Linked DNA regions of Homo sapiens: region 1 is linked to region 2. The links come from fine-mapping of genetic effects on gene expression. A gene starts in region 2. The other region holds a variant in brackets. All regions are shown on one strand. Distances are between the middles of the regions. Region 1 overlaps STAU1 (staufen double-stranded RNA binding protein 1). Region 2 holds the start of ARFGEF2 (ARF guanine nucleotide exchange factor 2).

What was found. PIP is the estimated chance that this variant, and not a neighbour inherited with it, causes the effect.
Region 1: its variant is fine-mapped to the expression of ARFGEF2 in blood mononuclear cells (TOPMed, PIP 0.98).

Annotation. Positions count from the first base shown.
Region 1 is chr20:49,105,045-49,116,617 of GRCh38, reverse strand. It overlaps STAU1 (staufen double-stranded RNA binding protein 1), which reads left to right. Exons shown (of 14, transcript NM_017453.4): 13 at 751-836; 14 at 1,725-3,279. The coding sequence ends at 1,740. Among named protein-coding and RNA genes, the nearest start is that of CSE1L, 65 kb to the right of the region's middle. The variant T/A (reference allele first, on the strand shown) is at 5,049.
Region 2 is chr20:48,915,216-48,926,788 of GRCh38, reverse strand. It overlaps ARFGEF2 (ARF guanine nucleotide exchange factor 2), which reads right to left and starts at 5,078. Exons shown (of 39, transcript NM_006420.3): 1 at 4,779-5,078. The coding sequence starts at 4,899. RefSeq lists an enhancer at 4,368-4,447 and silencers at 4,818-4,867, 4,908-5,007, 5,238-5,317.

The DNA of each region.
Region 1 (11,573 bases), 190 kb before region 2:
ACACTAATCCCAGCACTGCGGGAGGCTGAGGCAGGCGGATCACCTGAGCTCAGGAGTTCAAGACCAGCCTGGCCAACGTGGTGAAACCCCATCTCTACTAAAAATACAAAAAAAAATTAGCCAGGTGTGGTGGTGGGTGCCTGTAATCCCAGCTACTTGGGAGGCCAAGGCAGGAGAATCGCTTGAACCCGGGAGGTGGAGGTTGCAGTGAGCCAAGATTGCACTACTGCACTCCAGCCTGGGCAGCTGGGTGAGACTGCGTTTCAAAACAAAACAGTGTCTCCGAAGATAATGTAATAAGAAGAAAAATACATGATAGGCCGGGTGTGGAGGCTCACACCTGTAATTCCAGCACTTTGGGAGGCCAAGGTGGAAGGATCGCTTGAGCCTAGGAGTTTGAGACCAGCCTGGGCAACTTAGTGAGACCCTGTCTCTATAGAAAGAAAAATACATGATAGATTTTTGTTAGAAAGCAGGATATAACATTTATACAGTCTGGTTACCACATGGTTAAAAATACTAGAAGGAAAAATATAACATTTTCAGAGGTTATGATTCAGTGAGGTAACTGAATATTTTTTAATTTGTATTTTAAATTAAAAATTCAAAGTTTTATTTAGTAGTACCAGAGTTGAAGAAGTTGCCACCTGTTTGCTGGGCAGCAGGAACTCTCTTGCCTGCCTGACCAGTGTATTATGCTGTGGTCCCAAGCGGTGGCTGTGGCTTTACCCTTCTTTCCATCCCCACTAGGCTGCGCTGAACATCTTAAAGTTGCTGTCTGAGTTGGACCAACAAAGTACAGAGATGCCAAGAACAGGAAACGGACCAATGTCTGTGTGAGTGCACTGATGAAGGGGAAGGCGCTGATGATGGGGAGGCTGCCCCTCGTTTGTGTTGAGTTTACACTATCTGCTGACTCAGCGGGGAAATATTTGCCTGAGTTACTTTCTGGCCCTTTTGCCTGAAAGTTTTCCAGATTCTCTGGGCAGAAAGCTCTACTTTTAAAAGACATTTTGAGGCTGGGAACAGCGGCTCACACCTGTAATCCCAGCACTTTGGGTGGCCAAGGCAGGTGGATCATGAGGTGTCAGGTGTTTAAGACCAGCCTGGCCAAGATGGTGAAACCCTGTCTCTACTAAAAATACAAAAATTAGCCAGGTGTGGTGGCAGGCACCTGTAATCCCAGCTACTTGGGAGGCCGAGGCAGAGAACTGCTTAAAACCTGGGAGGCGGAGGTTGCAGTGAGCCGACATAGCGCCACTGCACTCCAGCCTGGGCGACAGAGCAAGACTCCGTCCCAAAAAAAAACAAAAAAACCTTTTTGAGTTGGTCATACCTTCACATGGTCAGAACTCTGCATTATTTTACAAGGTACAATCTTCCCCTCGGACAGCCCCCATCCCATCCCTCCTATTCTCCCCACCGCCTCCCCCATAGATCACATTTTTACTAGTTTCTCCTGTATCTTTCCTGTATGTTTCTTTATACAAATATAGACATATATTTCTTCCCTCATTTTCTTCCTTTCCCCCCACAGAGATAAGTACACACACTCTCCTTGCGTATTTTACTTACTGGCATACCCTGGGAAAACTTTTGTTATCATAAACTGGGGCTTTTAGTATTGTACTTCCTGATGTTTGCCAATTTCTTTTCATTTTTAACAGTACTTTAATTCTCTTACATTTCAAAACTAGTGTCATTTTCATTTTTCTTCCTTAAAGGTGTGGGAGGTGCTGAACCTTTTCTGGCCATGAACCATTATAAAATCCCAACATATATACTGAAAATACTGAAACTGCTTTGAAAATTTGGAATTTCTGATACCTCCAGTGGGCCGAGAGACACGGTGGGTAAAGGATGTGGGCAGCAGCAGGGAAGACAACAGAAACACAAGGAGGCGGCTGTGGCCGGGCTGGACTGTGCTGGGGTTTGTTGTGATGGCCACTCGGTGACCTGGCGGTCCCTACGCAATAGCAGCTGCCTGTGGGGAAGAAGGGCTGCCCAGCCAGCTGGTTCTCCCGGGACACCAGCAGATCCACACCCTGGGCACCTCCGTGTTTGGTCTTTTTTTTCCCCTGTGTGAAAGAAGAAACGGCACGACCCCTTCTCAAGCTGGCTCACTCAGACACATTGGGACAAACCCTGGACAGCCATGCCAGAGAGAGGCCTTTGACCGGCCCCAGAGCTAAAAGCACCAGAGAAAATCAAATGCTTCCTACTCAGCGTGACCCAACTTTTCTAGTGTGCCACGGCCCCACCACCTCCTGCAGTACCCACACCATCACCACTGCTTTCTCTTCCAACAGTGATCTGTATTCTTAGTTTCATTATTTTCTTTTGATTGATATGACACTATATAAAATTTTCATTTGAGAATTTCTCAATTGTATCTAGTTAAATAGCACAGTTTGGAAACTTGTCTGAGACTGACTTTATCAATAATCTAACCGACAAAGATCATATCCATGTGTATGTGGTTAGACATTTTTATTTCATTGACTAACCCAGGACAGTTTCAGTGATGCAAATTGTGTGCCCTCTGGTTCAGCTGAAACAGTCCTGGACTTTCAAAAACCTTGAATAAGTCTCCCACAGTTGTATAAATTGGACAATTTAGGAATTTTAAACTTTAGATGATCATTTGGTTCCATTTTTATTTCATTTTTATTTTTGTTAATGCAAACAGGACTTAAATGAACTTTGATCTCTGTTTTAAAGATTATTAAAAAACATTGTGTATCTATACATATGGCTCTTGAGGACTTAGCTTTCACTACACTACAGGATATGATCTCCATGTAGTCCATATAAACCTGCAGAGTGATTTTCCAGAGTGCTCGATACTGTTAATTACATCTCCATTAGGGCTGAAAAGAATGACCTACGTTTCTGTATACAGCTGTGTTGCTTTTGATGTTGTGTTACTGTACACAGAAGTGTGTGCACTGAGGCTCTGCGTGTGGTCCGTATGGAAAGCCTGGTAGCCCTGCGAGTTAAGTACTGCTTCCATTCATTGTTTACGCTGGAATTTTTCTCCCCATGGAATGTAAGTAAAACTTAAGTGTTTGTCATCAATAAATGGTAATACTAAATTTTTTTGTTAATTTATTCTCAAATGCCACTACTGCTAGGTTGGTCCCCTCCCAACTTGCCCCTATCCTTTTTTTATTTTTAAGAAAAAAACTTTGTAATGCTTGTGATTCCATCTGGGCAAAAGTCTGAAGATCTGAAATAACTTTATATCAAACCATTGATCAATAAACAGCTACTAATGAAGTGTTTGGTCCTGTTGAGCAGTAACTAAAATAAGGGAAGATGTGAGTAAGGGGATGGAAGCTCGTCGTGGGGGGACCAGGGCCAGCCCCTCTGGGAAGCGTTGCTGCCTCAGAGGCATGTTGGGTACCTGGATGTAGGGACTTGTGCCCCGTCCAGACCTGACATTGCTACCCAAAGAAATGACCCCAAGGAGCTGAGAGGAGACTGCCGGACACTTCCCAGGGCATCCTCATCTCTCACCATAACTGAGCACTGAGGAGGACATGCGTTCCAGCCTGGTTGAGGGTTGGGCTAGTTGGTTTTCATTTTTTAATTTTAGAAGAAGTGGAAGAAGATTATAAAGGCTTCACTGTAAAGCCAGCCTATGATTGTACTGCCGGAATAACTGAAAGTGATCAGAAGGTTATGGAAAACACTAAGGGCAGAAGGAAATGCAACATTTTGAGGAGAAAAGCAGTGAAAGGAGAAAAAGTGTCTTTACGTCTTTAAAAACAACAAAAAAAGAATTCATGGACCTGTGACTCACATCACAACCCTCCCCCAGACTGAAGGTTCTTAGAGAAGCTGAGCCTGGGGCCCTGACTTGATGCACTTTCGCAGGGAGCGTACTTGCTGGCGGCAACACTGGAAGCCGACCAGTGTGATCTTTTGTGTCTTCGACTATTTATAAAAATTCATTCTGGGCCGGGCGCAGTGGCTCACACCTGTAATCCCAGCACTTTGGGGGGCCGAGGCAGGTGGATCATGAGGTCAGGAGATCGAGACCATCCTGGCTAACACGGTGAAACCCCACCTCTACTAAAAATACAAAAAAATTAGCCGGGCATGGTGGCAGGTGCCTGTAGTCCCAGCTACTCGGGAGGCTGAGGCAGGAGAATGGTGTGAACCCGGGAGGCGGAGCTTGCCGTGAGCAGAGATCGCGCCACTGCACTCCAGCCTGGGCGACAGAGCGAGACTCCGTCTCAAAAAAAAAAAAAAAACTCATTCTGGGTACTTCATTGAAGAAGGGGTGCCCTGGGGTAACTTTGGTAATACACTCAAGTAAGCATTAAGTGTTAAAAATATTACAATAAAAAATTATAGTTCAAAAACAGTAGTAAGTTTTTCTTCTTTTTATTTTTATTTTTTTGAGATGGAGTCTGGCTCTGTCACCCAGGCTGGAGTGCAGTGGTGCAATCTGGAATCACTGCAACCTCCTCTTCCCGGGTTCAGGCAATTCTCTTGTCTCAGCCTCCCTCCTGAGTAGCTGGGATCATAGGCACGTGCCAGTGCGCTTGGCCAATTTTTGTATTTTTAGTAGAGATGGGATTTCACCATGTTGGCCAGGCTGGTCTCGAACTGACCTCAAGTGATCTGGCCACCTCGGCCTCCCAAAGTGCTGGGATTACAGGTGTGAGCCACTGCGCCTGGCTTAAGTTTTTCATGAGTAGCTTTGCATAGTAAGACATTACAATATAGCTTTTTTTTTCCTTTTTGAGACAGTAGCTTGCTCTGTTACCCAGGCTGGGTTGCAGTGGCCTCAAGCGATCCTCCTGCCTTGACTTCCCAGAGTGTTGGGATTACAGGTGTGAGCCACTGCACCCAGCAGTATATAGCCTTTCTTTACTACTTTTTTTTTTAAAGACAGTGTCCTGCTCTGTCACCCACACTGGAGTGTAGTGGCATGATCACAGCTCACTGCAGCCTTGACTGGGCTCAGGTGATTCTCCCACCTCAGTTTCCTGAGTAGCTGGGACTACAGGCACATGACACCATTCCTGGCTAATGAT[T/A]TTTTTTTTTTTTTAAGAGAGAGGGTCTCACTACATTGCCCAGGCCAGTCCAACTGGGTTCAAGTGATCCTGTCATCTCATCCTCCCAAAGTGCTGGGATTGCAGGTGTGAGTCACTGCACCTAGTCCTTTAACTTTTAAAATTTTATTTTAAAATAATTTCACAGATAAAAGGTACATTTTACTGAAATTATGTGTACATTGTCTCCCCTGGTCTCCCTCTCTCTTCAAAATTTAGATATTCCCCCAAGTCAGGGAGTGAACACTGCATCCAGTCCATGGACCCCATGCAGATCTCGCCAGCTGTCCCAACAGTGTCTTGTCCTTTCCTGGTCCAGGGTCCCTGTCAAGAGGTGTGTGTTGCCTTTAGTTTTCTCCTGCTGTCTGCATCAGTCCTCTCGGCATCTGTGTTTCACGTCCTAGTGGGGTGAAGCCCGCAGACCTCTCTGTAGTACACCCTCAGCCTGGGTCTGGATGATGGTGACCAGACCTAGGCAGCACTTTTGTGGCAGGAAAGCCACAGAAATGCTGCGCTCTTCTCTGTATGTCACTCCAGGGGCATACAGTTTGTTAACCTTGGTGACCCAGGCAGATTGCTCCACTGTCAGTCAGGTCACACTATGTCTCTTGGTAATCAAGGAGTATTTTGTGGGGAGGCATCCTCAAAGCACATGACCAGCCTGTTCCTCTTCAGACCTCTACCCTCCATCCTTGTCCTTCACTTACAACTTCCATGTGAATCCACCACCACTGCCCATCCATGAGCTTCCATGTCCAATGTTCCTTCTGCCGACACCCTGCCCCTGCATGGAGGCGCCTTCCCTCCCCATTGATGCAGTGTGTCAGCTAATGGACTCCTAGTCTGGGTCGCAATCCATTGCAACCATTTATTTGATGTTCAAATTACTTCAAATTTGGACATCAGAAGACCTGTCAAGGTGACTCTTGTGTCCTTTTGGCATGTTTCCATCTTAAAATTGTAAAAAATTGTGGTAAGACACATAGAAAATTTACCATCCTATTAACCACTTTTTTTTTTTTTTTTTTAAAACAGCATCCCAATCTGTCATCCAGGCTGGAGTGCAGCAGTGTGATCCTGGCTCACTGCAACCTTGCTCTCCTGGGCTTTCCTCCTACCTCAGCCTCCCGAATAGCTGAGACTACAGGTGTGCACATCCATGCCCAGCTAATTTTTTTTTGTACAGTCGAGGTCTTGCTATGTTGCCCAGACTGCTAACTACTTTTAAGTGTACAGTTTATTCATAATGTGTAGCCACCACAATCCAACTCCATAACTTTTCATTTTGTAAAACTTAAACTGTTCCCATGAAACACTAACTCCCCTCGCATGCTCCTTCCAGCCCCTGGAAACCACCACTTGTTTATGATTTTCACTCTAGGAACCTCCTATAAATGGACAGTATCTGCCCTTCTGTGGCTGGTTTATCTTACATAGCCTAATGTCCTTAAGGTTTATCCGTGTTGTAATATGTCAATTTCCCTCCTTTGTTAAGGCTGAGTAATATTCCATTGTGTGTATATATTCCACATTTTGCTTATCAATACATTGTCAGTAGGCACTTGGGGTTGGACACGGTGACTGACACCTGTAATCCCAGCACTTTGGGAGGCCGAGGCAGGTGGATTCCCTGAGATCAGGAGTTCAAGACCAGCCTGGTCAACATAGTGAAACCCCATAGCTACTAAAAATATGCAAATTAGCTGGGCATGGTGGCGCGCACCTGTAGTCCCAGCTACTCGGGAGGCTGAGGCAGGAGAATCACTTGAACCCAGGAGGTGGAGGTTGTAGTGAGCTGAGACTGTGCCACTGTACTCCAGCTTGGGCAATAGAGTGAGACTCAGTCTAAAAAAAAAAAAGCACTTGGGTTGCTTCCACATGTGAATATTGGTATACAAAATCTTTGAGACCCTGCTTTCAACTCTTTGGGGTATGTACCCAGAAGTGGAATTGCTGCATATAATTTTTTTTTTTTTTGAGATGGAGTCTCCCTTTGCTGCCCAGGCTGGAGTCAGTGGCACGATCTCGGTTCACTGCAACCTCTGCCTCCCAGGGTCAAGTGATTCTCCTGCCTCAGCCTCCCGAGTACCTGGGATTACGGGGGCCCACCACTACACCTGGCTAATTTTTGTATTTTTAGTAGAGACGGGGGTTTACCATGTTGGCCAGGCTGGTCTTGAACTCCGGACCTCAAGTGATCTGCCCGCCTTGGCCTCCCAAAGTGTTGGGATTACAGGCGTGAGCCACTGCGTCTGACCTATTATTTTTAACATATTGAGGAACTGCCAGTTTCCCACTGCAGCCATCACTTTCCAACAGTGCATGATGGTTCCAGTTTCTCCACATTGTCGCCAATGTTTATTGTTTCGTTAAATAGTAGCTGTCCTAGTGGATATGAGGTGGTATCTCATGGGGGTTTTGGTTTGCATTTCCCTAACGATGTTGAACATCTTTTCGTATTTATTGGCCATTTGTCTATCTTCTTTGGATAAATGTCTGTCCAAGTCTTGCCCATTTTTTTTGAATCATGTTGCTTGTTGTTGAATTTTAGGAGTATTGTGTGTATTCTGGATATTAATCCCTTAACAGATGTGACTTGCAGTTTTTTTCTTCCCATTCTGTGAGTTGTTTTTTCATTCTGCAAAAGCTTTTTGCAGAAAAGCTTTTGATGCAAAAAAGGTTTTAATTTTGATGAAGTCTAGTTTGTCTATTACTTTCTTTTGTTGCCTGTTTCTGGTGTCATACTTAAGAAAACATTGCTAAGTCCAACTCATGAAGATTTGCGGATTTGCCTCATGTTTTAGTTTTAGTCTTAGATTTAGGTCTTTCATCCATTTTAAGCTAATTTTGTGTATGGTGTTAGGTAAGGGTCCAGCTTCATTCCTTGGCAAGTGCACACTGTTTTCCCAACAGTATTTGTGAAAAGACTGTCCCTCCCCCATTGAATGGTCTTGGCACCCTTGTCAAAAATTACATGGAAGGACTTCTGGATTCTCTTCCTTTGGGGGGGGGGGGGGTGTGTGTGTGTGTGTGTGTGTGTGTGTGTGTGTGTGTGTGTGTGTGTATATATATATATATATATTTTTTTTTTTTTTTTTTTTTTTTTTTTTGAGACGGAGTCTCGCTCTGTCGCCCAGGCCGGACTGCGGACTGCAGTGGCGCAATCTCGGCTCACTGCAAGCTCCGCTTCCCGGGTTCACGCCATTCTCCTGCCTCAGCCTCCCGAGTAGCTGGGACTACAGGCGCCCGCCACCGCGCCCGCCACCGCGCCCGGCTAATTTTTTGTATTTTTAGTAGAGACGGGGTTTCACCTTGTTAGCCAGGATGGTCTCGATCTCCTGACCTCATGATCCACCCGCCTCGGTCTCCCAAAGTGCTGGGATTACAGGCGTGAGCCACCGCGCCTGGCCTTTTTTTTTTTTTGAGACAGGGTCTTACTCTGTTGCCCAGACTGGAGTGCAGTGGTGCAGTCTTGGCTCACAGCCTACCAGGTAGCTGGGACTATAGGCGTGTGTCACCATGTCACCATGCCTGGCTGATTTTTTCTTTTTTTTTTTGTAGAGACAAGGTTTTACCAAGTTGCTCAGGCTGGTCTTGAACTCCTGGGCTCAAGTGATCCTCCCACCTCAGCCTCCAAAGTGCTGGGATTACAGGCGTGAACCACCGCAACCAGCCTCCTATATGTCTGTTGTTGTGCTGGTACCACACTGATTTGATTACTGTAGTAAATTTTGAAATCTTAACCTATGAGTCCTTCAGCTAAGTTTTCAAGATTGTTTTTGGTTATTCAGGGTCCCTTAGGATTCCTTATAAATTTTAGGATGGGCTTTTCTATGTCCACAAAAACTGTCATTTGTCCCCATCATTTTTTGAAGACTAACTTGACACATTGAGATATTTGGGGTTCATCTTGTTCTTTTCCTTCCCCTAGTCCTGATTCAGCCTTTTTTTTTTTTTTTTCTGAGATGGAGTCTCACTCTGTCGCCCAGGCTGGAGTGCAGTGGCACCATCTCAGCTCACTGCAACCTCCGCCTCGTGGGTTCAAGCGATTCTCCTGCCTCAGCCTCCCAAGTAGCTGGGACTACAGGTGTGCACACCACATCTGGCTAATTTTTGTATTTATGTTTAGTAGAGATGGGGTTTCACCATATTGGCCAGGCTGGTCTTGAACTTCTCACCTTATGATCCGCCCGCCTCAGCCCCCCAAAGTGCTGAGATTACAGGCGTGACCCACCACGCCTAGCCTGATTCAGCCATTTTCCTAAGGAGCCCTGGTTCCCTCTACTAGAAGACAGCATTTAGAAACCAAGATCTGAATGCTCTGAGGGCTTACTGCTACTGGGGTGTTATTGTTTCTAGACCTCTGTAGCGGACAGGAAATCTATGTGTATATATATCTATACACATCTATCTGTATGCATTTGTATACTCAGTGTTCTTTGTAGCCTTCTCCTCTATGTTCTCAGTGCATTCTCCAACACTGAGATTGTCTCTCTCTTGGATCCTACAGTAGATAAGCTTGGGACTCAGTCGGTTCCCACATTGGCATTGTTTTTTTTTTTCAAAAAGTGGGTGGTGACTGCATTGTCATGACTTTGTCCTCATGGTCATTAAAGGGAAAACTTAACGGGTAATGGTTATTTCCTCATAGCTGTCTTGAGTTTGTTGTTCTTGTCTCATCCTCCCCATTATTTTTTTCCTGAAGTATCTTAATGCTAATCCTAGACTAAAACATTCACCTGTAAGTATTTTCACCCATAGCTGGGTGTTTTTCTGGGTTTTCAGGCCTTCTTAAGCCAGAGTAATGTGGATAGGTCTTACAAACAAGTATCACTTCTGAATCTAGTTTACTGAGCTGTTTTTTTAAGTGGCTTTGTTGGGTGAATGCTCAGTGATGGACACCATAGTCTGGATCCCTCCTGTTAGGAGGGCGCCTGGGATTGGTATGATCGACAGGAAAACATATTGGCCTTTCCCAAAAGCGTGATGTTGCTGCTTGCTTTATAGGGATCAGTGTGAGTTCAGTAGAATAGGATCATCCCAGGAAGCAAACCTGAGGCCCGAGAGGTCTGGCTTTGTTTGCACATAACATGTCAGAAGCATCCACTGGCTGGGCATGGTGGCTCATCCCTGTATTCCCAGCCTTTTGGGAAGCCACGGTGAGTGGACTGCTTGAGCCCGGGAGTTTGAAACCAGCCTGAGCAACATAGAGACCCCCATCTCTACAAAACAAAAAAAAAACAGAAAACTAGCCCGGCATGGCACCATGGTGGTACCATGGGCTTGTAGTCCTAGCTACTTGGGAGGCTGATGTGGAAGAATCACTTGAGCCCGAGGTCAAGGCTGCAGTGAGCTGAGATCACGCTACTGCAACTATAGCCTAGGTGTTGGAGACTCAGCCTCAATAAAAAGCAGCAGTATTTATCACTACTTCTGGTTTAAGGGCTTAAATGCCTGTGTGCTCTTAAAAACAAAAAACTTACTTGAAATTCCAAATCAATAAATACTGGATTTGTCAAGCACTTAATCAGAGCAGGATTAGCAGAGGGAAGAGTGGAGGAGTTGGCCAATGTTCTTAAATAGGGCTTTTAAAGAGATACATTGTTTTAAGAAGCAATGGCTAACTCAAAGATAGGAGGTGGGAGTTTGTTAATGGGCAGCATAGCCATCTTCTTGGATTTTTTGTAAACCTTTCCTGTGGTGCTGAGTTCGTGGAACTTGTTACTTTGTGTACTGTACTGATGTGTTTAATGTCTGTATACAAAGCATGTAAGGACAGCATGTGCATGTGAAACTAGTCTGTAGGACATTCTCCTCAGACTTCTTTGTAATTTAAATGGCATCCCAATTTTCATTAGTGAAAACTGTAGGAGATGTGTACAGCTTTATTATGTGCTTCTAACCTAAGTTTAATATTTAAAAAATGCATTCATCTGGCCGGGTAAAGTGGCTCAGCTGCAGTCAGGAGTTCAAGACCACCAGCCTGGCCAACATGATGGAACCCCGTCTCTACTAAAAATTAGCCGGGCGTGGTGGTGGGCACCTGTAATCCCAGCTACTGGGGAGGCTGAGGTTGCAGCGAACCGAGACTGCACCATGGCACTCCAGCCTGGGTGACAAGAGCGAAACTCTGTCTCAAAAACAACAACAAAACCGTTCATCCACACATTCTTTTACATTCACTGAAACCTACAAACATCAGGTCTGCAATGACAACAGTAAAGCAGTCTATGTATAGTAGCAATTTTGTTTTGCTTTTTGAGACCGAGTTTCAGTCTTGTCCCCCAGGCTGGAGTGCAATGGCACAATCTCAGCTCACTACAACCTCCACCTCCCAGGTTCAAGTGATTCTCTTGCCTCATCCTGAGTAGCTGTGATTACAGGTGCGTGCCCTCACACCAGGCTCATTTTGTATTTTTAGTAGAGACAGGGTTGCACCATGTTGGCCAGACTGGTCTCGAACTCCTGGCCTCAGGTAACCCACCTGCCTTGGCCTCCCAAAGTGCG
Region 2 (11,573 bases):
TGTACCCAAAGAAATGAATCACAATCCAGAATTAATAACAGGTCACAACTCCAGAATTAATAAGAGGGAGTTTACTGCTGATGAAGAGATATCATCAATTAGAAAAACTGATTAACTCCAGCCCAGACAACAGAAAAACCCCGTCTCTACTAAAAACAGAAAAATTAGCCAGGTGGGTGGTACGCCCCTGTAGTCCTAGCTACTTGGGAGGCTGAAATGGGAGGATCACCTGAGCCAGGGATGGAGAGGTTGCAGTGACCTGAGATCGCACCCCACCACTGCACTCCAGCCTGGGCCACAGAGCAAGATCCTGTCTCAAAAAAAAAAAAGAAAAACTGAATAACTCAAATGAAACTTATGTGTAACCAGCTCTTTACTCTCATTTCCTTCTTTCCATTAGCCCCTAATTAAAGTAAACCTAGTATATATGTAGTAAAAACCTGAAGAAAAGAGCTGTGATCTTTTTGACTCAAGGCTTTCAAACATATCTCAAAATTCAGCTATAGAAAATACAGTCTCCTGAAACTCCACTGCGGTATACTGATTGTTTTAAAAACTCTACTGAGTATTTCAAACATAACAACTTTCATATGGAGAAGCAAGAAAACATGGTAGTAATAGTTAAGATCTTGGACTATGGAGCCAGATTGCCTGTGTTTATACCCTGGTTCCATCACTTACTGAGTTACCCTGGCCAACTTAACTTCTCTGGGCCTCAGTGGGAATGATGATAATAGTGAGAACTAAATTGCATGAAAAGCCCACTTTACTGTGCCTGGAACTCAGAAATGCTTAGTACATAGGAGATATAATACAACATGTGATCTTTAAAAGTCATTCAATTTCATATGAAAATACGTATGTTTACTATTCTTTTTAAATTTTCTTGATAATGGCTGAGAATAATGACAACTAGTAATTATAGAGCACCTAGCCATTACTTAGCACTTTTGTGTGAGGGTCTCACCCTGCTGTCTCGGCTGGAGTGCAATGGCATGATCTCAACTCACTGCAACCTCCATTTCCTAGGTTCAAGTCATCCTCCCACCTCAGCCTCCCAAGTAGCCGGGACTACAGGCATGCACTACCACACCCAGCTAATTTTTATATATTTTTTTAGAGATGGGGTTTTGCCATGTTGCACAGGCTGGTCTCAAACTCCTGGGCTCATGCAATCTGCCCACCTTGGCCTCCTAAAGCGCTGGAATTACAGGCATGAACCACAGTGCCCAGCCATAGATAAATTTTTCCATATCGAATTTTAAATAGATTATCCTATTAAGCCTCCAAACTTCATATAGTTTAAGAGCAGAAACATAACTTAAAGATACATGATGGGAGAAGATGAGTCTTAAATAAGACAATTATAAAAGGGAGGTTTAAGAATGTAATTATATTCTCCAACAGAGGGCTGAAAGGTTGAAGATTATTAATATATATCAAAGTTTCATAACAAGGTAAAGAGCAACAGTATCCTTGGGGCGATGAATACTCTCACAGGCTGTCTTGATTTCTCCAGATAAAGGTTGGAAGGGCACTATCCCCTACTTGGGCAGTCCCTATTTATGCTTTTGGTGTATAGTGCGGACGAATCATTGAGATTACTCCAAATCTGCTCCATCATGATTATCACAATTTTTACAAAGGACAACCCCTGTCTTCATTGAGTTTAGGAAGTTAATACTCCAACACAGCCTTTCAATCACGTAATTACATTCTTATTTACTGCATCTACAAACCAAATAGAGCAGTAAGTCATTCCTGAACGAGGAACTAAGGTTAAGAACATCAAACCAGAGTAATTACAGCTGCTGTGGTTTGTCACAGCTTAAAATAATAATAATAAAAAAGTAATAGCAAGCATTTACTGAGCACCTACTACATGCCAAGTTTTTTGCACATGTCAATTAACTTAATCTTTACAATAATCCTATAAGGAAGTAACTTGTCCAAGATCACAAACGTAGCAAGTGGAAGGCAGGAGGTTTGAACACAGAAGTCTAGGGTCCCAAAGAATACACTCCTAGCTAACATCTACACTATACAGTCCCTGCAGCCCTGATCCTCTCCCCTAATATGCTACAGCTGGTGGAATCATATCACAGAAGCTGTTTCCTGTAAATGCTCTCTATCATCCAAGCATTTCAACTTTGAGCCGTCATTTACAGTTCCTCTTATCACAATTAACAACAATCTATACATGGTAATCTCTAAAATACCACATAGCTGCTCCTTATACACTGGCTCGTTTCAGCCTTTTTTTTTTTTTTTTTTTTTGAGACAGAGTCTTGTTTTGTCGCCCAGGCTGGAGTGCAGTGGCGCAATCTCAGCTCACTGCAAGCTCCACCTCCTGGGTTCACGCCATTCTCCTGCCTCAGCCTCCCGAGTAGGTGGGACTACAGGTGCCCGCCACAGCGCCCAGCTAATTTTTTTTGTTATTTTTAGTAGAGGCGGGGTTTCACCGTGTTAGCCAGGATGGTTTCGATCTCCTGACCTCGTGATCTGCCTGCCTCAGCCTCCTAAAGTGCTGGGATTACAGGCGTGAGCCACCGCACCTGGCCCCAAATTTCTCTTCTTAAATGGGACTACTGGACACAAGACTGGGCCTTGAGAGACAGAGAGAAATATCACCAGGCATTCTGCTATGTGTTCTACTCTAAGTAAAAGCAGTCATTTCTATTTAACAGCAATGACACACAATTATTCTCTTAAAAAAGATGGTCACTTAACAATATGCATACGTTCCCTTATGACAGTTCCTATTATGCCATTGGCACAACCCCAATTTGTGATTCATATAACCTGTAGTCAAATTACTTCCTATCTAGGCCATTTTTTACAATTCACTACTAAAAACTGAAAACATGCATTCCACTACTTGTGTTAGGAAAACTTGAACTTCTGAACAAAGATACGATCCGAAAATATCTATTAAATTCTCAGCGTTAATGGCCCTTCATGACCCAGATGAAAATTTTATAAGTAGGTTCCAATAATATGATGCACACTTTGGTGAAAATTTTATGTTAAGAAGTTTTCTGAAGAAAAAATAAAAACTCTTCTGCCAAATAACTATTCTGAAACCTCCACAACAATATCGAGAAGATAGAGTCCAGGCAGATTTCAACGTGGAGTTATAAATACCAGGCTCTTGCCTAACAAACTGCTTTGCAGTGCTTATCCCACATTGCTGATAAAATACCCAACAGCCTTGGTTATTGGAAGAGAAAAGCTTTAAAAATCTACATCTCAGTAAATTCCTTCCACTGATCCTGAATTTCACGGACTAGCAACTGTTTCCAGATTATCTAGACTACCACCTCTGCATCAATAGTTGGCCCCTGAGGGAGTCTCAGGGCCCTCTGAAAATCTGATGAAAGCCAGGGACCTTCTTTCCAGGGAAGTGCAAAGTTCACCAGCCTATTTCTAAATGCCAAAAGAACACTACTCTATACTTTGTAGCAAATGAAAGGAGAAAGGTGATAACAATCTCAAACTATGTGACTAAAAATCAAACTTTCCATTTGCTCATTTTGTTAGGAAAAACAGGCCTTTACAGATTCCAAACCAAAGACGTTGGGGCAGTGAATTAGCTTGAAAACAGCTCTGGTCAAATGCATGGATTCTCCCACCAAGAACTCTCTTCTGAAACTCCATATGGTGGATAGTTCTTGCCTTTCAGTATTCAGCTCAAGTGTCACCCTCTTGGAAAAGATTACTTTCCTGACCACCTGATTACTTTTCCTCTTGGAAAAGATTACTTTCCTGACCATGGAAAGCAGTCCTCAAGCCCTCTTTATCACATCTTGCTGTTTTATTTTCAAAATAGTATTTATCAGTATTCCAAAATACCTCACCTATTTTCTTAATTAATTATTTTGTCTCCTCTATTCGAGTATAAGCTCCATAGGGGTAAGGACCATGTCCGTCTTGTTCCCCACTGAATTCTCAGTACCTGGTATGCAGTGGGCACTTGATAAATATTTGTTAAATGATTAAAACTGAAAGATAGGATAGTGATTTTGCTATCAATTATCAAGCCTTTAACTATTAGTTAGAATTCTCCCTCTTTCCATAATCTGAGGGTCCATTCAATCAGCAAATATTTATCGAGCACCTACTGTGCGCCAGGCACTGTTGCAAGCGCAAGGGATACAGCAATGAATAAGTCAGACAAGTATCTTCGCGCTGAAGACCTTGTATTTTAGTGGACTGCTAGGAATAAGCAGATGTCTTGCTCACTACAATGCCTGGGAGATCCAGAACACCTTCTACAATCCTTCCTTGAGGGAAAGAGCTATGGGAGATCCCCAAACCAAAGGAAAACATTCTCCAACGGGCACTTCCAAAACAAGAATCAGGGGTTTCCCTAAACCAGTTGGACGGCTCTTCCTACATGCTCTGTTCACCTAGGGGAACCCCAATCAGCAGAGCTCAGGTAACGAAAAAACTTGGGGCAAGGGCTACTGTTTCTAGGACTTGGAGGTGGTGAGGGGAGGAACCAGGAAACAGGGCGACAAGGAATCGTGGCAAAAGCCCTGAGCTGGAACCCTGAGGAACAAGCTCTGGTTGTCACCAACTTGCTAGGTGACCTTGGGCCAGTCCCGAGCTGCCCGGGCAACACTTCCTCCGGGGGTATAATGAGGAGGAGGCCGGAAGGGTGGAATTCGGGATCGGGGGGAAGCGGAGGCCAGGAGGCCGGGCCAAGGCCGAGTAGGATAGGGCAACGGCCGACGTGCTGAGGCCAGCGCGGGGCAGGGCGGGAGCGGCTCACCCACCGAGCGCCACCTGGCAGGCCCTGCGCAGCTGGGAGTGCTGGGGCCGCTTCACCTCCTTGTCGGCTAGGATCTTCTCCAGGGCCCGGGACACGAACATGCTCTTGGTCTGGCTCTCCTGCATGGCCCCGGCCCGGCGGGGGCTGACGGCCCCGCGGGCGGGCGGCGTGAGCGAGATGGCGAGCTAGGCTGCGGGCCCGGCGTCCCGGCCGGCACCGGCCGCGTCCGTCCGCGCCGCCCCGTCAGGAAGCGACACCTCGGCCCCACGGCGCCGCCATGTTGGAGCGCGTCACGTGACCACGTGACTGGCGAGGCCGCTACGGCCGCCTAGCGTCCGTCGGCCCCGTGACCCCCAGCGGGGCGGAGCCTAAGGCTGGGGGCGGAGCGGAGTCAGGTGGGCGAGAGACAGAAGGCGAGGGTGGAGGGTGGAAGAAGAGAAGGTGGGGAGGGGAGTGGGCATGGGCGAAGGGTATAGGGGACGCGGGGGCTAAAGAAAGGCGAAAGCGGGGAGAGGTGGTGATGGAGATGAGAGGAGAGAAGCGCAAGGTAACGGGAGGTGAAGGGGAGCACGAGAATGGAGATGACGTGGGTAAGAGAGGAGATGAGGAAAGGAAGGGGAACGAGAGGATTGGCAAAAAAGAACGGTGACAAGGAGAGATGATAAAGGGGCAGGAGGAGAAGGCGAGTAGGAAAGAAAAGAGGTGAGGGAGCGAGGACTGGAAGCTGGTGAATGAATGAGAAGTGATCGGGAGTAAGGGGCGTCAGGAGGAAGGAGGAAGGGCGATGAGAAGGCGGCGGCGGAGGGGAAGGGGGGAGGCCCGGCGCGGCGGCTCACGCCTCTAATCCCAGCGCTTCCGGAGGCCAAGGCGGGAGCATCGCTTGAGCCCAGGAGTTCGAGACCAGCCTGGGCAACATAGGGAGACCCTTTCTCTACAAAATAAAAAGTAAAACAGCCGGGCCTGGTGGCGCTGCTTGTGGTCCCAGCTACTGGGGAGGCTGAGGTGGGAGGATCGCTTGAGCCTCGGAGGTTGAGGCCGCAGTGAGCTGTGATGGCACCACTGCACTCCAGCCTGGGCCACAGAAGGAGACCCTGTCTCAAAAAACAAACAAACAAAAAGGAGGTGAGTTAGTTATGGAGGAGATGAGGTGGTGTGGGAAGAGGTGAGAGGGAGGCACAGAGGTAAAAGAAAAAGGAGAAAGACAGGAGGGAGAGGGGAAGTGAAAAGGAAAGAGAGGTAGAAATGAGAGGAGGGGAAAGAGTAGGAGAAAGGGTGAAGGGAGAGGAGGTAGGAAGGGGAGCTGTCAGGAAGAACAGAAAAGAAAGAAAAAGATGAGAGTAACAAGTTAGGAAAACAGGAAAGAGATGGAAAAAGGAATGGTGTAGGAAGGAGGTGAAGGGGAAGGAGGTGAGGAAGAGTGGAAAGAACATGCTGGGAGAATAGGAAATGGAAGGGGTGGAGGGAGAGGGGAGGTGAAAGGAAGACAGAGAGGGAGAGAGAGAAGGTGTGTTTATGTCTATTCTCCACAAGCAGGGTTTCACCACAGCCACTGGCAAGATACACACATCCATATGACCCTCCTGTCACAGCAGCAGTGACCTTGCAGTTCAGTGAACTTCTGTTTATTGAGTGTCGCAGCTGTGCATAGTATACCAGGAAGCACTGACCTCTCTCTGTAGTTTATCCTGTTATAAACCTGTGAACCCTCACAGTGCAGTGAACTGGACCTGGGCTTTGGGAGTCAGGGGAAGAAACCCAGATGGCCAGTGTCACACAGCCTGCAAATGAGTGCTGGGGGACAGATACTCTGGCCCCAAGGCAGCTTCCACTCCATTCCACAATGATGCTATCACAGCAACCATTAGTGGTGTCCCCTGGGCCCCTTCCCCCAAGGGCAGCCATGGGCTTATGCAAAGACAGTTGTCTTCCTTGGAAACCTCAGAGGCACAGACATCCCAGGCAGGCATGCTCCAGTGCTCGGGTCTTAGCTCAGACGTCTCTGGGAAGCCTTCCCTGACCTGTCTCAAGTAGCCCCCTCTCTCCCTAGCTGATGTTTTCCACAGCACTTTCTGAGCTTTTGTACGTGTTGACTATTTGTTGTCTCACTAAAGCACGGTTGCAGAGGGGCAGGCCATATCCCCAGGGCCCGGTCTACAGTCACGTTGAATATTTCATGGCCTTAAATTCTGCAAGTTCCACTGCTTGTAATGCGATTTCGCAGTCACTCCCAGCAAGAGGTAGAGTTTGTTTCTCCACCAGCCTGAACCTAGACTAGCCTTGTGGCTGGTCTTGACCAATAGAATGTGACAGAAAAGAGGCTGCACAAGTCCCAGAGCATCAACAGCCCTGGCTCACTTCTTCCTTTACTGCCTGGGAATGCTGAATGACACTCAGAAGCAGCCCTGGGCAGGTCAGTGGCTCATGCCTGTAATTCCAACACTGGGAGGCTGAAGTAGGAGGATCACTTGAGCCCAGGAGTTCGAGACCAGCCTGGGCAACATATCAAGACCCTGATGCTACAAAAAATTTAAAAAATTATCCAGGAATAGTGATGCCTGCCTGTAGTCCCAGCTACTTGGAGGGCTGAGGTGGGAAGATTGCTTGAGCCCAGGAGGTGGAGGCTGTAGTGAGCCGTGACTGCCCCTCTGCCCTCCAGCCTGGGAGACAGAGCAAGACTCTGTCTCAAACAACAACAACAATAATAACAACAAAATGGTAGCAGCCCCAGAAGAAAGAGCACGTGGATAGGGAGCCCAGTCATTGCAGCTCTCCCAGCCGACCCACCAGCTGAATACAGCAGCACAAGTGACTAGTGAGACCAGCAGAAAAACTGCCCAGCTGAGCCACAGAATAGCAGAAAACAAAAAATCATTACTTTATGCCACTACATTCTGGGGTCTTGCTTGTTACACAGCAATAGATCACTGAGACACACCTCAATCCTTATGTGTTGAATGAATGAATGAATGAATGAAATTCTCTAGAGTACAGTGCAGTCTGCTGAGTAACATGTTTTGATCCCACCCCACTCCCCCCAACACACACACACAGCAAGGCCAGACTATGTCACTCCCCTGCCGAAAATCCAACAGAGGCTCCCTATTGCCCTTGGAATTGAGTCCAAGTTCAGTATCATACTGTGGCCAACAAGGTGTGATAGAGGCCCTGCCATTTTCTCTGAGCTCATCTCCTTCCTGCTTTTCTTCAGGACTCTGGCCACTCTGGGCTCCTTTTTGTTCCCATCAAGGGCTTGTCTTACATTTTTCTGTCCCTCTTAATCAGTGCTTCTCCATGAAGGCAGTACCACCCCCAGACGCATTTTGAAATTTTGTTGGGGGGATATTTCTGTTGTCGTAATAGAGGGAACAGGAATGCTAGATAACATCCTGCAGAGAGCTGAACAATCCTATGTAACAAACAATTCAATGTATGCCACATGGCCAGACACTCCTGGAGATGAAAAACTTATTGATAATGATCTGAGCCTAGAATCTAAATCTGCTTTACATATAAAATGTTTTTTGCTGTAGTTTTTTTGTTTGTTTGTTTGTTTGTTTTGAGATGGAGTCTCGCACTGTCGCCTAGGCTGAAGTGCAGTGGTGTGATCTCCACTCACTGCAACCTCTGCCTCCCAGGTTCAAGCGATTCTCCTGCCTCAGCCTCCTGAGTAGCTGGGATTACAGGCACCCGCCACCACGCCTGGCTAATTTTATTTGTATTTTTAGTAGAGACGAGGTTTCACTATGTTGGCCAGGCTGGTCTCCAACTCCTGACCTCAAGTGATCTGCCCGCCTTGGCCTCCCAAAGTGCTGGGATTACAGGCGTGAGCCACCATGCCCGGCCCTTGTGTAGATTTAATATCACCACATTTTCCAGAAATGCAAATATCATTGCAATTCAAGGGAAATATATATGTATATGTATATGTATATGTATATATACATATGTATTTTGAGACAAGGTTTCACTCCATCACCCAGGCTGGAGTGCAGTGGTGTGATCGAAGCATGCAACACCATGCCCAGCTAATTTGAAAAAATATTTTTGTAGAGATGGGGGTCTCCCTATGTTGTCCCTGCTGGTCTGGAACTTCTGGCTGAAGCGATCCTCCCACCTTTGCCTCCCAAAGTGCTGGGATTACAGATGTGTGCCACCATGCCTGGCTAATTTTACAATTTTTTTTTTTGAGGCAGAGTCTCACTCTGTTGCCCAGGCTGGAGTGCAGTGGTGTGATCATGGCTCACTGCAGCCTCCACCTCTTGGGCTCAAATGATCCTCCAAATTCAGCCTCCAGAGTAGCTGGGACTACAGGTGTGTGCCACCGTACCTGACTAATTGTTAAATATTTTTGTGGAGATAGGGTCTCCCTGTGTTGCCCAGGTTGGTCTCAAACTCCTGGTCTCAAGCGATCCTCCTACCTCCACCTTCCAAAGTGCTGGGATTACAGGAGTAAGCCAGCACACCTGGCCAGAAAAATGTATTTTGTCTGGAACTTTACCAAATATCATTTACCACTTCAAAGCCACATTGCTGTCATTTACACCAGCTATGGTATCTGATTTGCTGCTAGGGCACTCCAATCAGCCTGCACATATGGCTGTGGCAATTCCAGGGGATCCCACTTTTAGGTTCCAGCATCCGCCTGCTTCATTACACCTTCTAGTGTAATTGTATCTGAGCATTTATCTATTGAAATAAAATTTGCAAATTATACATTGCATTCCTTTTGTTTCACCTTCGTAGTCTTATTAAAACTGTGTGTGGGAAGATTTTATTACCTATGAATTTCATTTCAGAACAGCTAACAAAGGCCTTGCAGTTATAAAAGGGGGTGTGTAGTATCTGCTAGGGTTGGAAAGCACTGATGGCTGCCCCCTTCCCACCACTCTGCCCTCAACTCAATGTCACCCACAAGGTCACCAACCTCCCAGTTTTATCCCTCCTACCTCCACTACTTGCTTCCATATCATCTTTTGTTAGTTGCACTGAACTGAATTTTAAATGATGGTGTTTATTTATCTGTATATTAGTTATCTGTTGCTGCATGATAAATGACCTGACACTTAGCAGCTTAAAAGCAAACATTTCTTATCTCACAGTTTCTGTGGGTCAGGAATTTGGGAGCAGCATGGGTGTTTCTGGATCAGGATCTGTTGAGATTGCTGTTGAGCTGTCATCTGGGGCTGCAGTCAGATGAGGCTCAACTGGGGCTGGAGGATCAACTTCCAAAGAGGCTCCCTCTCATGGGACAGAGGCCTCAGTTCCACTCCTCTCGGTAGAGCTGCTTGCATGTGCTCATGCTGTGGTATCTCCTGTTTCCCAGAGTGAGTGACCCAAGAGAAAATGAGAGGAAGAGAGAGAGAGAGGGAGAAAAAGGGAAAGAGACTGAAGGAAGCAGAAGCAATTTTTGTTTGTTTGTTTTTTGAGATGGAGTCTTGCTCTGTCGCCCAGACTGGAGTGCAGTGGCACCATCTTGGCTCACTGCAACCTACTCATCCCAGGTTCAAGTGATTCTCCTGCCTCAGCCTCCCAAGTAGCTGAGACTACAGGCTTGCACCCCCACACCCAGCTAATTTTTGCATTTTTGGTAAAGATGGGGTTTCACCATGTTGACCAGGATGGTCTCAATCTCTTGACCTCGTGATCCACCCGCCTTGGCCTCCCAAAGTGCTGGGATTACAGGCATGAACCACCGCGCCCAGCCAGCAGAAGCAATTTTTATCACCAGTTCCAAAGTGGCCCACCATGCAGTCTGACCAGGAGTGCTGTTTTGGTGACTCAAATACCATGGTAGGCATAAATATGGGTGATGTGGTCTTAAAATGGTGAACAGTATTTGGTAAAGTTCCAGACAGAATGCAATTTTCCTTTACACATAGTCGTGTGAGAAGTGAGTGGCTAAGTCCAGCTCACACTCAAGGGGAGAATTATTAGGCTCCATCTTTAAAGGAAAGTTGGGTTTCCACAATGTGTTTGCTCACTTATCATCATGCCTTCCACAGGCAGAATGTGAATTCCATGAAGGCAGAGACATTGTCTTTTTCGTAGCTCTATGCCCAGAACACATAGTAGACGCTTAATAACTATTTGTGGAATGAATGAATGAATGGAACTGGCTTGAGTAGAGTTTACGGATTTAATATTAAATCAGCAGTTATTTGGAGGACCACTTGTTTCTATATGGTAGGCACAATAGTGGTCTTTAAAGATACCACAGTTGCTGGCTCACGCCTGTAATCCCAGCACTTTGGGAGGCCGAGGCAGGTGGATCACGAGGTCAGGAGATCAAGACCATCCTGGCTAACATGGTGAAACCCCCTCTACTAAAAATACAAAAACAAAATTAGCCAGGCTTGGTGGTGGGCGCCTGTAGTCCCTGCTACTTGGGAGGCTGAGGCAGGAGAATGGCATGAACCCAGGAGGTGGAGCTTGCAGTGAGCCAAGATCACTCCACTGCACTCCACCCTGGGTGACAGAGTGAGACTCTGTATCAAAAAAAAAAAAAAAAAAAAAAAAGATGCCACAGTTGCAGGCAAAACATCCCTATTCCAGCAAGAAAGATGAAGGGACAGTGTCAGGATCCATTTTCCTCTTCTTTCTTAAAAATAGAAACTTTGTCTGGGACTGGTGGCTCATGCCTGTAATCCCAGCACTTTGGGAGGCTGAGGCGGGTGGATCACCAGAGGTCAGGGATTCGAGACCAGCCTGGCTAACATGGCGAGACTCTGTCGCTACTAAAAATACAAAAATTAGCTGGGCGTGGTGGTGCGCACCTGTAGTCCCAGCTACTTGGGAGGCT